3 linked regions of the Homo sapiens genome follow. The protein of the gene in region 3 purifies or fractionates together with the protein of the main gene of each other region. This does not show direct contact. Each region holds a gene or a part of one and is shown on either strand. Other genes may lie near its edges. The genes, in order: MTHFD1, MTHFD1L and CNN1.

Evidence for each region.
Region 1: the proteins of CNN1 (region 3) and MTHFD1 fractionate together in Homo sapiens (co-fractionation; one large-scale study listed by BioGRID). This does not show direct contact.
Region 2: the proteins of CNN1 (region 3) and MTHFD1L fractionate together in Homo sapiens (co-fractionation; one large-scale study listed by BioGRID). This does not show direct contact.

What each region holds. Positions count from the first base shown.
Region 1 is NC_000014.9:64,412,298-64,415,947, reverse strand, and holds part of MTHFD1 (C-1-tetrahydrofolate synthase, cytoplasmic), read right to left. Parts: intron 3,477-3,650; coding exon 3,423-3,476; intron 591-3,422; coding exon 454-590; intron 310-453; coding exon 209-309; intron 1-208. UniProt on the Homo sapiens protein: Trifunctional enzyme that catalyzes the interconversion of three forms of one-carbon-substituted tetrahydrofolate: (6R)-5,10-methylene-5,6,7,8-tetrahydrofolate, 5,10-methenyltetrahydrofolate and (6S)-10-formyltetrahydrofolate.
Region 2 is NC_000006.12:150,882,634-150,886,283, reverse strand, and holds part of MTHFD1L (monofunctional C1-tetrahydrofolate synthase, mitochondrial isoform 2 precursor), read right to left. Parts: intron 3,523-3,650; coding exon 3,398-3,522; intron 651-3,397; coding exon 550-650; intron 1-549. UniProt on the Homo sapiens protein: May provide the missing metabolic reaction required to link the mitochondria and the cytoplasm in the mammalian model of one-carbon folate metabolism complementing thus the enzymatic activities of MTHFD2.
Region 3 is NC_000019.10:11,545,303-11,548,952, forward strand, and holds part of CNN1 (calponin-1), read left to right. Parts: intron 1-1,372; coding exon 1,373-1,439; intron 1,440-1,529; coding exon 1,530-1,667; intron 1,668-2,494; coding exon 2,495-2,605; intron 2,606-3,650. UniProt on the Homo sapiens protein: Thin filament-associated protein that is implicated in the regulation and modulation of smooth muscle contraction. It is capable of binding to actin, calmodulin and tropomyosin. The interaction of calponin with actin inhibits the actomyosin Mg-ATPase activity.

The sequences.
Region 1 (3,650 bases), on a different chromosome or scaffold from region 3:
TCTTAGCAGTTGAACAATAACAGTACCTACTTCACAGAGTTGCTGAGAAAATTGAGAGAAAATTTAGGTAACATCCTTAGTAGACAGGCCCTTCTGCCAATCAAGTCCATTTATTTATGGCCCACAATGTACCTCCTCTATGCCACCACATGTCAAGACCAGGATTCAGGAAATGGTGCTTTCTTGTTGTTTGGTTTGTTGTTTTTACCTGTCTCTTTGATGAGTTCCAAGCATCCCTTAGGCGTACAAGGAATGAAACAGTCATTGAGGTCACCTCTAGCAAGTTTCCCAGCATTGATGCTAGTCAATCTTAAAAAAGTGATGGAAATAAGAAGGAAATAAAGGCAATTAGATGTCTTTACTCTTTAGAAACATTTATGCTGTATTCCCCAAATAGAAACATATTATAAATGAAAGCATGCAATGAGACATAGGAAGCCAAGCCACACTTACCCATCCACATCCTTCTCGGGTGCAATAGCATTGATCACTTCTTCAGTGTTAATGGAATTCTCTGAATCTAAAGGTAGCTGCACTAAGAACCCATGTACAGTAGAGTCTTCATTCAAAGATGTAATGTACTTCATCACCTAAAAGTAATACCATATATAATTTGTATATCACACAGAAATCAAAAGGTAGGAAGAAACACTTTCTAAGGCAAAAATTAGGTTGCCCTATTTCCCCCCAACACTTTAATTATAGTCCTTTCAGAATGTACCTTCCCCTTGAATCCTGAGAGCACCTGTACTTTAACATAGAATGCATCCCCTAGGTGTCTGGTAAGAAGTCCATCAAATAAAAGAGCTAAGAGGCTGGGCGAGGTGTCTCATGCCTGTAATCCCAGCACTTTGGGAGGCCAAGTCAGGAGGATTACTTGAACCCAGGAGTTCAAGACCAGCCTGGACAACACAGTGAAATGTGATATCTACAAAAACTTTTTAAAAATTAGGGCCAGGGGCTGGGTGCGGTGGTTCACGACTGTAATTCCAGCACTTTGGGAGGCTGAGGTGGGTGGATCACCTGAGGTTGGGAGTTTGAGACCAGCTGGGCCAACATAGTGAAACCCTGTCTCTACTAAAAATACAAAATTAGCCAGGTGTGGTGGCACATGCCTGTAATCCTAGCTACTCGGGAGGCTGAGGCAGGAGAATTGCTTGAACCTGGGAGGTGGAGGTTGCAGTCCGCTGAGATAGTGCCACTGCACTCCAGCAGTGAGTTGAGATTGTGCCATTGCACTCCAGCCTGGGCAACAATAGTGAAACTCCACCTCAAAAAAAAAAAAAAAAAATTAGGGCTGGGTGTGGTGGCTCACACCTGTCATCCCAGCACTTTGGGAAGCCAAGGCAGGCCTCCCAAAATATAGAAAATTATTTTCTATAATTTGCACCTTACAATACAATAGCAGCTACTGGATCACTTGAAGCCAGGAGTTTGAAACCAGCCTGGCCAACATGGTGAAACCCTGTCTCTACAAAAATATAAAAAATAAGCCGGGCATAGTGGCGCATGCCTGTAATCTCAGCCTCTCAGGAGGCTGAGGCATGAGAATCGCTTGAACCCAGGAAGCGGAGGCTGCAGTGAGCTGAGATCATGCCACTGCATCCAGCCTGGGCAACAGAGCAAGACTCTGTCTCAAAAAAAAAAAAAAAAAAAAAAAAGCGGGGACAGGTGCGGTGGCTCACGCCTGTAATCCCAGCACTTTGGGAGGCTTGAGTGGGCAGATCACTTGAGGTCAGTAGTTTGAGACCAGCCTGGGCAATATGGGCAATTAAAAATACAAAAATTAGCTGGGCGTGGTGGCGCATGCCTGTAGTCACAGCTACTCAGGAGGCTGAGGCATGAGAATCGCTTGAACCTGGGAGGTGGAGGTTGCAGTGAGCCAATATTGCACCACTGCACTCTAGCCTGGGCGACAAGAGTAAAACTCTGCCTCAAAAATAAAATAAAATTAGCTGGGCATGGTGGCTCATGCCTATAGTCCCAGCTGCTCAAGAGGCTAAGGTGGGAGGATCACTTGAGCTTAGGAGGTTGAGGCTACAATGAGCTATGATCACACCACTGTGCTGCAGCTGAGGCAAAAGAGTGAGACCCTGTCTCTAAAAATACAATACAATAAAATAAAAAGAGCTAAGAACTCTAATAACTTATTACAGCAATAATACCCATGTTACAATCATCCAAATCAAGATGTAGAGCAGCAATGTCCAATCATCTTTTCTGCGATGGCAGAAATTTTCTATAATTTGCACCTTACAATACAATAGCAGCTACTTAATCCTTGCAAAGTGGCTAGTACAACCAAGGAAGTGAATTTTTAATTTTATTTCATTTTAACTAAATTCAAATAGCCTCATGGGGCTAGTGGCTCCCATACTGGACAGCGCATATATGGAACATTGCCATAACCTCAAGAAAGTTGCTTTATCCTCCTACAGTTTAGCATTAATCTCCCACCTACAGGCAACCACAGTTCTGACTTTAATCACCGCTGATTTGTTCTGCCTAGTCCTGAACCTCATATAAAAGGAATACATATTTGGTTTTTAGAATGCAGATAATTACAGGCCAAGGATCGGTTTTACCTATTTTTTTGAGACGGAGTTTTGCTCTTTTTTCCCAGGTTGGAGTGCAATGGTACGATCTTGGCTCACTGCAACCTCCGCCTCCCGGGTTCAAGTGATTCTCCTGCCTCAACCTTCCAAGTAGCTGGGATTACAGGCATGCGCCACCACGCCTGGCAAATTTTGTATTTTTTAGTAGAGACAGGGTTTCTCCATGTTGGCCAGGCTGGTCTCGAACTCCCGACCTCAGGTGATCTGCCCACCTCGGCCTCCCAAAATGCTGGGATTACAGGCATGAGCCACCGTGCCTGGCTCCAAGGATCAGTTTTAACAAACACAACAGATGATTTGGAAGCAAACAGTACTGCAGTCACACTTTGAGTACCAAATGTTCATCCCTGCACCATCTCCTCTGTGGGAGTCTGTGAAGAAAGAATACCTGGAGGTGCCAGGCGTGGTGGCTCACGCCTGTAATCCCAGCACTTTGGGAGGCCAAGGCGGGTAAATCACCTCAGGTCAGGAGTTCAAGACCAGCCTGGCCAACGTGGTGAAACCGCGTCTCTATTAAAAATATAAAAATTAGCCAGGTGAGGCGGTGGGCGCCTGTAATCCCAGCTACTCGGGAGGCTGAGGCAGGAGAATTGCTTGAACCTGGGAGGCGGAGGTTGCAGAGAGTCGAGATCGCATCATTGCTCTCCAGCCTGGGTGACATGAGCAAAACTGTGTCTCAAAAAAAAAAAAAAAAAAAATACCTGGAGGTCTTGGCTAAATGTGTCAGTCCCCAAAGCCCCCGTAAACCAAAACCAGAGAGGAAACCACTTCACCTTCCCTCTTCACAATCAACTCATAAAAGCTCACCTCAGATTCTGTGGTTGTTCTTGGTAACTTAATGTGAGTGGCTTTGATCCCAATCTGCAAAACAGACATTAAAAGCAGGTAAATGGCAAGACAACTTGAGATATTGAACCATTTCTTTTACAGACATGACTAACAAGCAAGGAGGTGTTGGTCATCATTTCACCCTTATATGTTCTGAAGAATGAGTCCCTCACTTCAACCCATTCATCATTCACTTGTTAATTGCCA
Region 2 (3,650 bases), on a different chromosome or scaffold from region 3:
TTAAATTTTTTTTGTAGAGACAAGGTCTCAGTATGTTTGCCCAGGCTGGTCTCGAACTCCTGGCCTGAAGTGATCCTCTGGCCTTGGCCTCGCCTAGCACTGAGATTATAGGCATGAGCCGCTGTGCCTGGCCTCATTTAAGTCTTCAACGTAAGTCTTATCTAAGGCTACATATTGATAGATTTAGTAAGCTGAAACTGGAAGCATATTTTACTGTGGTTATTTTGACTGTTTCATGAGAGAAATTGAGCATGTTTAAAACAGGGCTAATCGTTTATCTCTACTAATTTCTCTTTTAATTTATAAGATGGTCTTACTAGAAAAAGTTTCTAGGTATTCATCTGTATCTCCCAAAAGATGAGAAAAATAAAAAAAGTCAACGTGAAATATCACTTCTATGTTCAATTAGAATCTTCTAGAAACATCCTAAAAGGATATCAGAATAATAATTTAAAAAAATTTTTAATTCTTCCCCAAACAAATCCTTATTAAAAATAATGTAAATACCAATAAATAGAAATCAGCGGCATTTCTCAAGGAGCATCCTACCTGATTTTTCAAGAAGTTCAATTACAGCTTTGGCAACAGGTGAAACAAAACATTCATGGGCATCCCCTCGCACCAGCTTCCCCAGGTTTATGTCTGTTACTCTGAATCAGAAAATAAAGAAGTAGGTTAAGTCAAAGCCCAGCCAAAAAAATCACTCACGTGTAATGTACATATATTAACCCCAAATAACATCCAAGTCAATGTTTGATAGACAGAATACATAAAAATGAATTAAAGAGGACCAGGCATGGTGGCTCACGCCTGTAATCCCAGCATTTTGGGAGGCTGAGGCGGGTGGATCACATGAGGTCAGGAGCTCGAGACTAGCCTGGCCAACATGGCGAAACCTCAACTCCACTAAAAATACAAAAGGTAGCTGGGCGTGATGGCACGTGCCTGTAATCCCAGCTACTAGGGGGCTGAGGCAGGAGGATCGCTTGAACCTGGGAGGCAGAGGTTGCAGTGAGTTGAGATCATGCCACTGCACTCCAGCCTGGGCAACAGAGCGAGACTCCATCTCAAAAAAAAAAAAAAACCCATAAAAAATGAATTAAAGAGAAAGCAGGCAATAAAGGCCATTCAATAAAGGTCTTAGAAAATTCTAAGGCAGTACCTTAGGAAACTTCACCCTGGCCCTGACATTGGGTGTTCCGGTTCTGCCAATATACCAGGACACAGCCTAAAGCCATACAGGGCTTCACTTCGCAACTCCAGGGAGCTCCTTTCAATGGACCCCAATGGACTAGCATCCCTAGAGTTACACAGAAGCATGGTCCTGCAGTCCACTCAAAACCCAGAACCAATCCTATAAATCTGGAGTGACCCAGTAAGACCTGGGATTGAGGCACAGGTCACAGGTCTGATTTCAACTTGACCTCGATATTTATCTCCTTGAGAAGTCGGGGTGGGGGGCAGTGGAAAAAATGAGTGACCACACACTTCTGAAGGGTTCTGTGCCTTTCCCTGTTCAAATCTAGGACAAAACATTCCACAGCTATCTAGCCTAAACTGAGCACGTCAATCTCAGTAACAGAATGGAGACATTTAGAACCATTTTCGTAATTTCTCCTTTTACTCTCTGTTGTTTTTGTTTGGTTGGTTTTTCCTGGCTGGGCCTCAGCATGAATTCCCCTCCTTTTATGAAAGACTTGAAACTATGCCCTAGGACCTTCAAGTTCTGAAAGTTTTCTCATGGATTAGTGCTTCTTCTCCTTTTACAGTTAGTCTACGACAGGACTGGAGATTGTCGTTTTTTAAAAAAATGTTTAATTATTTACTTAAAAATAGAGACAAGGGGCCAGGCGCGGTGGCTCACTCCTGTAATCCCAGCACTTTGGGAGGCCGAGGCAGGCGGGTCACGAGGTCAGGAGATCGAGACCATCCTGGCTAACACGGTGAAACCTCGTCTCTACTAAAAGTACAAAAATTAGCCAGGTGTGGTGGTGGGCACCTGTAGTCCCAGCTACTCGGGAGGCTGAGGCAGGAGAATGGTGTGAACCCAGGAGGCAGAGCTTGCAGTGAGCCGAGATCGTGTCACTGCACTCCAGCCTGGGCAACAGAGTGAGACTCTGTCTCAAAAAAAAAAAAAAAAAATAGAGATGAGGTCTCACTATGTTGTCCAGGCTGGTCTTGACCTCCTGAGATCAAGAGATCCTCCTGCCTTGGCCTCCCAAAGTGCTAGGATTACAGGTGTGAGCCACTGTGCCCAGCCAGGACTGGAGGTGTTCATGACACCTTTTCAGCCTGTGTTTGGGTCTACTCAAGTCACAATAAAAGGCTAGAATGGAAGATTGCTGGGTGTCTCAGGAAGGTGGTAGCCTCCCCATCCAGCCCCTGCAGGGTCTACCGGATCTGGAATCTAACTTTATAAATCTGCTTACAACCTATAACCATTAACACATTGTGTTCTTTTTGGCCACAGTACAAAACACTTCCTATATTTCCATGGAGGAAAATGGGGTTTTAATCCCCAGGAAGCATGCTTATCCCCCACTGGAGACGGCCGGTATCCTTTGTTCTATGAAGCTTATGTCACTCCATGACATGAATCACAGGCCAACATTACAGCACCCAATAGTTATGATGTTCCCCTCCAAATTTCAAATAAAACCTTGTGTCATTAAGAAAAGTATTTATTTTGCTTTTCTCAACTGGCCTGGGACTAAGACAGAATATGGTACTGCTGGGGAATCAGGTTTCTAAGTTTTCTTCTCTGGTCTGGTAGAATTACCAAGGAAAAAACTATTAGAAGAATAGAGCTGGCTAAAGATTGTATAAGTCAGACCGGAATTTATTAAATGAATCTGATGGTGTAAGATCATATGGCATTGAAGCACTATAAAAGGGCTAATGTATTTTCCAAAATATGTAACTTTTGCATGCAGAATTTTAAAAGGCTACAGATGGCCAGACACGGTGGCTCACGCCTGTAATCCCAACATTTTGGGAGGCTGAGGTGAGTGGATCACAAGGTCAGGAGATAGACACCATCCTGGCCAACATGGTAAAACCCCGTCTCTACTAAAAATACAAAAATTAGCCAGGCATGGTAGCGCATGCCTGTAATCCCAGCTACTCAGGAGGCTGAGGCAGGAAAATCGCTTGAACCCAGGAGATGGAGGTTGTGGTGAGCCAAGATCACGCCACTGCACTCTAGCCTGGGCAACAGAGCGAGACTCCATCTCAAAAAAAAAAAAATCCTATAGACTCCTGAAATATTTAAAATGATTTTTTTATCCAATTACTGACACAGTTGAAATAAATAGAAGAAATTTAGAAAAATAAAAGCAGGCACAATAGAAAAAGTGATTTAGCCATAAAGGTTGATTATTTGATTTTATTTTCTTACCCATCCACATCTTTTTCTGGTTTCAAGGCATTGAGGACTTTGTTGCTAAACAAGTTCTCAGAGATCTGAAGGGCAAGGCCATGTACTCTGGTATCTTCATTGATCTTTAAGATTTCATCTATAATCTAAAGAGAAAACAAAAAAACAAAATAAAAATTAGTTTTGTGAAAATGAGACCCAACAAAGGAAGCTTTATATAAAAAGTGGATTCATGAAAATGCATCTGTTATAGTTTGTTGTTGTTTTGCTCCTT
Region 3 (3,650 bases):
CTGGTGGCTGAGACCCAGGTGGAGGTGGCGGGGAGCAGTGGGTGGTTTTCTGGACTCATTAAAAGGCAGAGCCAAAGAACTTTGGAGGGACTGGACATGAGGCTGAGAGAAGGAGAAAGGGGGAGTTGGGGGCAAGTCCAAGGGCTCTGGCTGAGCACCTAGAAGGGGGCACTGCTAGGCAGGGAAGGTGGAGGGAGGGGGGAGTCTGGAGGGGGAAGCTGCATGTCAGGAGTCTGGAGCAGGGTGAGTTTGATTTGAGACACCCAGGCACCCATGGAGAGAGCTGAATGAGATGGTAAGAAACCCAAGCTGCAGGGAGATGAGGGAGTTGCTGGCATATGGAGGCACTTAAAGTCAAGACACTGAATGAGGCCAGGTGCTGTCACTCATGCCTGTAATCCCAGCGCTTTGGGAGGCTGAGGCAGGAGGATCGCTTGAGCCCAGGAGTTCAAGACCAGCTTGGGCAATACAAATACAGTGAAACCCCCTCTCTACCAAAAAAAAAAAAAAAAAAAAAGCCAGGCATGGTGGTGCGCACCTGTGATCCCAGCTACTCGGAAGGCTGAGGTGGGAGGATCGCTGGAGCCTGGGAAGTTGAGGCTGCAGTGAGCTGTGATTGCACCACTGCTCTCCAGCCTGGGCGACAAAGCCACACCCTGCATCAAAAAGAAAAAAAAAAGAAAAGAAAAGAAAAAAGAGGCGAGATCATTAAAGGAGTGAGTCAGAGAAGAGGCCCTTGTGGGCTTCCTGCTGTCTACAAGAGAAAAGGATGCTGAGACACGCCTGCCAGTGAGGCTTCGGAGATCCCAGAGACTCGGACACACCTTGGATAAGCAGGCTTTCTGACTGGGACCTGAGTCTAGCTCCTTGGCATCAGTGTCCCATTTGTGTGTGTGCTTGGGTGGTTTGGAGGGGCTGCAGCTGAGAGCTGACTGCAGGGAGAAGTGACGCTAGGGTATGGCATGGCCCCTTGTGGTCATCCCGTCACCCTCCTCCTGCTGGGCTGGGCTGGAGAGCGGGAGTGGGGGACACCTTTCTTTCTTTTTTTTTTTTTTTTGAGACGGAGTCTCGCTCTGTCCCCAAGCTGGAATGCAGTGCTGCAATCTCAGCTCACTGCAACCTCCGCCTCCTGGGTTCAAGTGATTGCCTCAGCCTCCTGAGTAGCTGGGAGTACAGGCATGTGCCACCACGCCTGGCTAATTTTTGTATTTTTAGTAGAGATGGGGTTTCACCATGTTGGCCAGGATAGTCTCGCTCTCCTGACCTCGTGATCCACCCGCCTTGGCCTCCCAAAGTGCTGGGATTACAGGCGTGAGCCACCGTGCCCAACCCTGGGGGGACACCTTTCTTACCCCTTCCCCACTCTTCTCAGATTCATCAATAAGCTGCAGCCAGGCTCCGTGAAGAAGATCAATGAGTCAACCCAAAATTGGCACCAGGTGAGCCCAGACACAATCTCTTCCATCCTTGCCCGCAAGCCCCTCAGACCTCCCCTCCCCACCCAGTGACCACCACCTGCCCCCCTCTAGCTGGAGAACATCGGCAACTTCATCAAGGCCATCACCAAGTATGGGGTGAAGCCCCACGACATTTTTGAGGCCAACGACCTGTTTGAGAACACCAACCATACACAGGTGCAGTCCACCCTCCTGGCTTTGGCCAGCATGGTGAGTGTGGTTGCAGGCTGGGCAGGGGGTGGTGGGCAGCCTGGGCTGGGATGCAGGTGTGGCCACTTGTGCTCCTGAGCCCAGTGAAGGTGGCGGAGCGGGGGGCAGGGATCGGGGAGCAGGTGCTGTCAACAGCGTCCAAGGGGGCCGGGCGCGGTCGCTCACACCTGTAATCCCAGCACTTTGGGAGGCCAAGGTGAGCGGATTGCTTGAGGCCGGGAGTTTGAGACCAGTCTGGCCAACATGGTGAAATCCCGTCTCTACTAAAAATACAAAAATTAGCTGGACGTGGTGACGCATGCCTGTAATCCCAGCTACTCAGGAGGCTGAGGCAGGAGAATCGCTTGAACCCGGGAGGCGGAGTCTGCAGTGAGCCGAGATCGTGCCACTGCCCAGCCTGGGTGACAGAGCCAAGACTCCGTCTCAAAAAAAAAAAAACAAAAAACAAAAAACAGTGTTGGCCGGGCACGGTGGCTCACGCCTGTAATCCCAGCACTTTGGGAGGCCGAGACAGGTGGATCACAAGGTCAGGAGATTGAGACCATCCTGGCTAACATGGTGAAACCCTGTCTCTACTAAAACTACAAAACAAAATTAGCCGGGCATGGTGGCAGGCGCTTGTAGTCCCAGCTACTAGGGAGACTGATGCAGGAGAATGGTGTGAAGCCGGGAGGCGGAGCTTGCAGTGAGCTGAGATCACGCCACTGCACTCCAGCCTGGGCAACAGAGCGAGACTCTGTGTCAACAACAACAAAAAAACAGTGTCCAAGGGGACTGTGCAGCCTGGAGGCCCCCTTGTCAGTCCCTGCTTTCCCTGCCCCACCTAGGCGAAGACGAAAGGAAACAAGGTGAACGTGGGAGTGAAGTACGCAGAGAAGCAGGAGCGGAAATTCGAGCCGGGGAAGCTAAGAGAAGGGCGGAACATCATTGGGCTGCAGGTACCGCCCTGTCCTCACTGCGCAGAGGTCATAGAGGCCAGGAGGGCACCCTGATGTCTGAAGGCTTTTGGGGACAGGATATTTGGCATTAACTATACTATAGGCCGGGTACTGTGCTTATGCTCATCTTCCATTCACAAACTCACTCACTCTGCCAACACCCCAGCAGACAGGTGCTTGTTATCAACATACCCTTTCCGCAGATGAGAAAACTGAGACCCGGAGAAGCTGGCTCGCTTTTGCACAGATCTTCCAGCTGATGCGTGGCAGGCTGGAACTTCAATGCTAGAAGTCAGTCATGTGATAGGCCCACTCTGGGCCTCAGTTTCCAGTCTCGAAAGGATGCCTCAGGCGGGGTGCAGTGGCTCACACCTGTAATTCCAGCACTTGGGGAGGCTGAGGCAGGAGGATTGCTTGAGGTCAGGTGTTTCAGACCAGCCTGGGCAAAATAGAACCCCCCTCCACCGCCATCTCTACAACAAATTTAAGAGTTTAGCCAAATGCAGTGGTGTCTGCCTGTGGTCCCAGCTACTTAGGAGGCTGAAGTGGGAGAATCACTTGAGCCCAGGAGTTCAAGGTTACAATGATTGCATCACTGGACTCCAGCCTGGGCGACAGAGTGAGACCCTGTCTCTAAAAATGAAAATGGGCTGGGTATGGTGGCTCATGCCAGTAATCCTAGCACTTCGGGAGGCCGAGGCAGGCGGATCACTTAAAGTCAAGAGTTCAAGGCCAGCCTGGCCAACGTGGTGAAACCCTGTCACTACCAAAAATACAAAAACTAGCCGGTGTGGTGGGGCACACCTGTAGTCCCAGCTACTCAGGAGGCTGAGGCAGGAGAATTGCTTGAACTCAGGAGGCAGAGGTTGCAGTGGGCCAAGATTGTGCCGCTGCACTCCAACCTGGGCGACAGAGTGAGATGCTATCTCAAATAAAATAAAATAAAACAAAAAAATAGAATAGAACAAAATAAAATATAAAAATAAACTAAAAAATGGGCCAGGCACAGTGGCTCACCCCTGTAATCCCAGCACTTTGGGAGGGT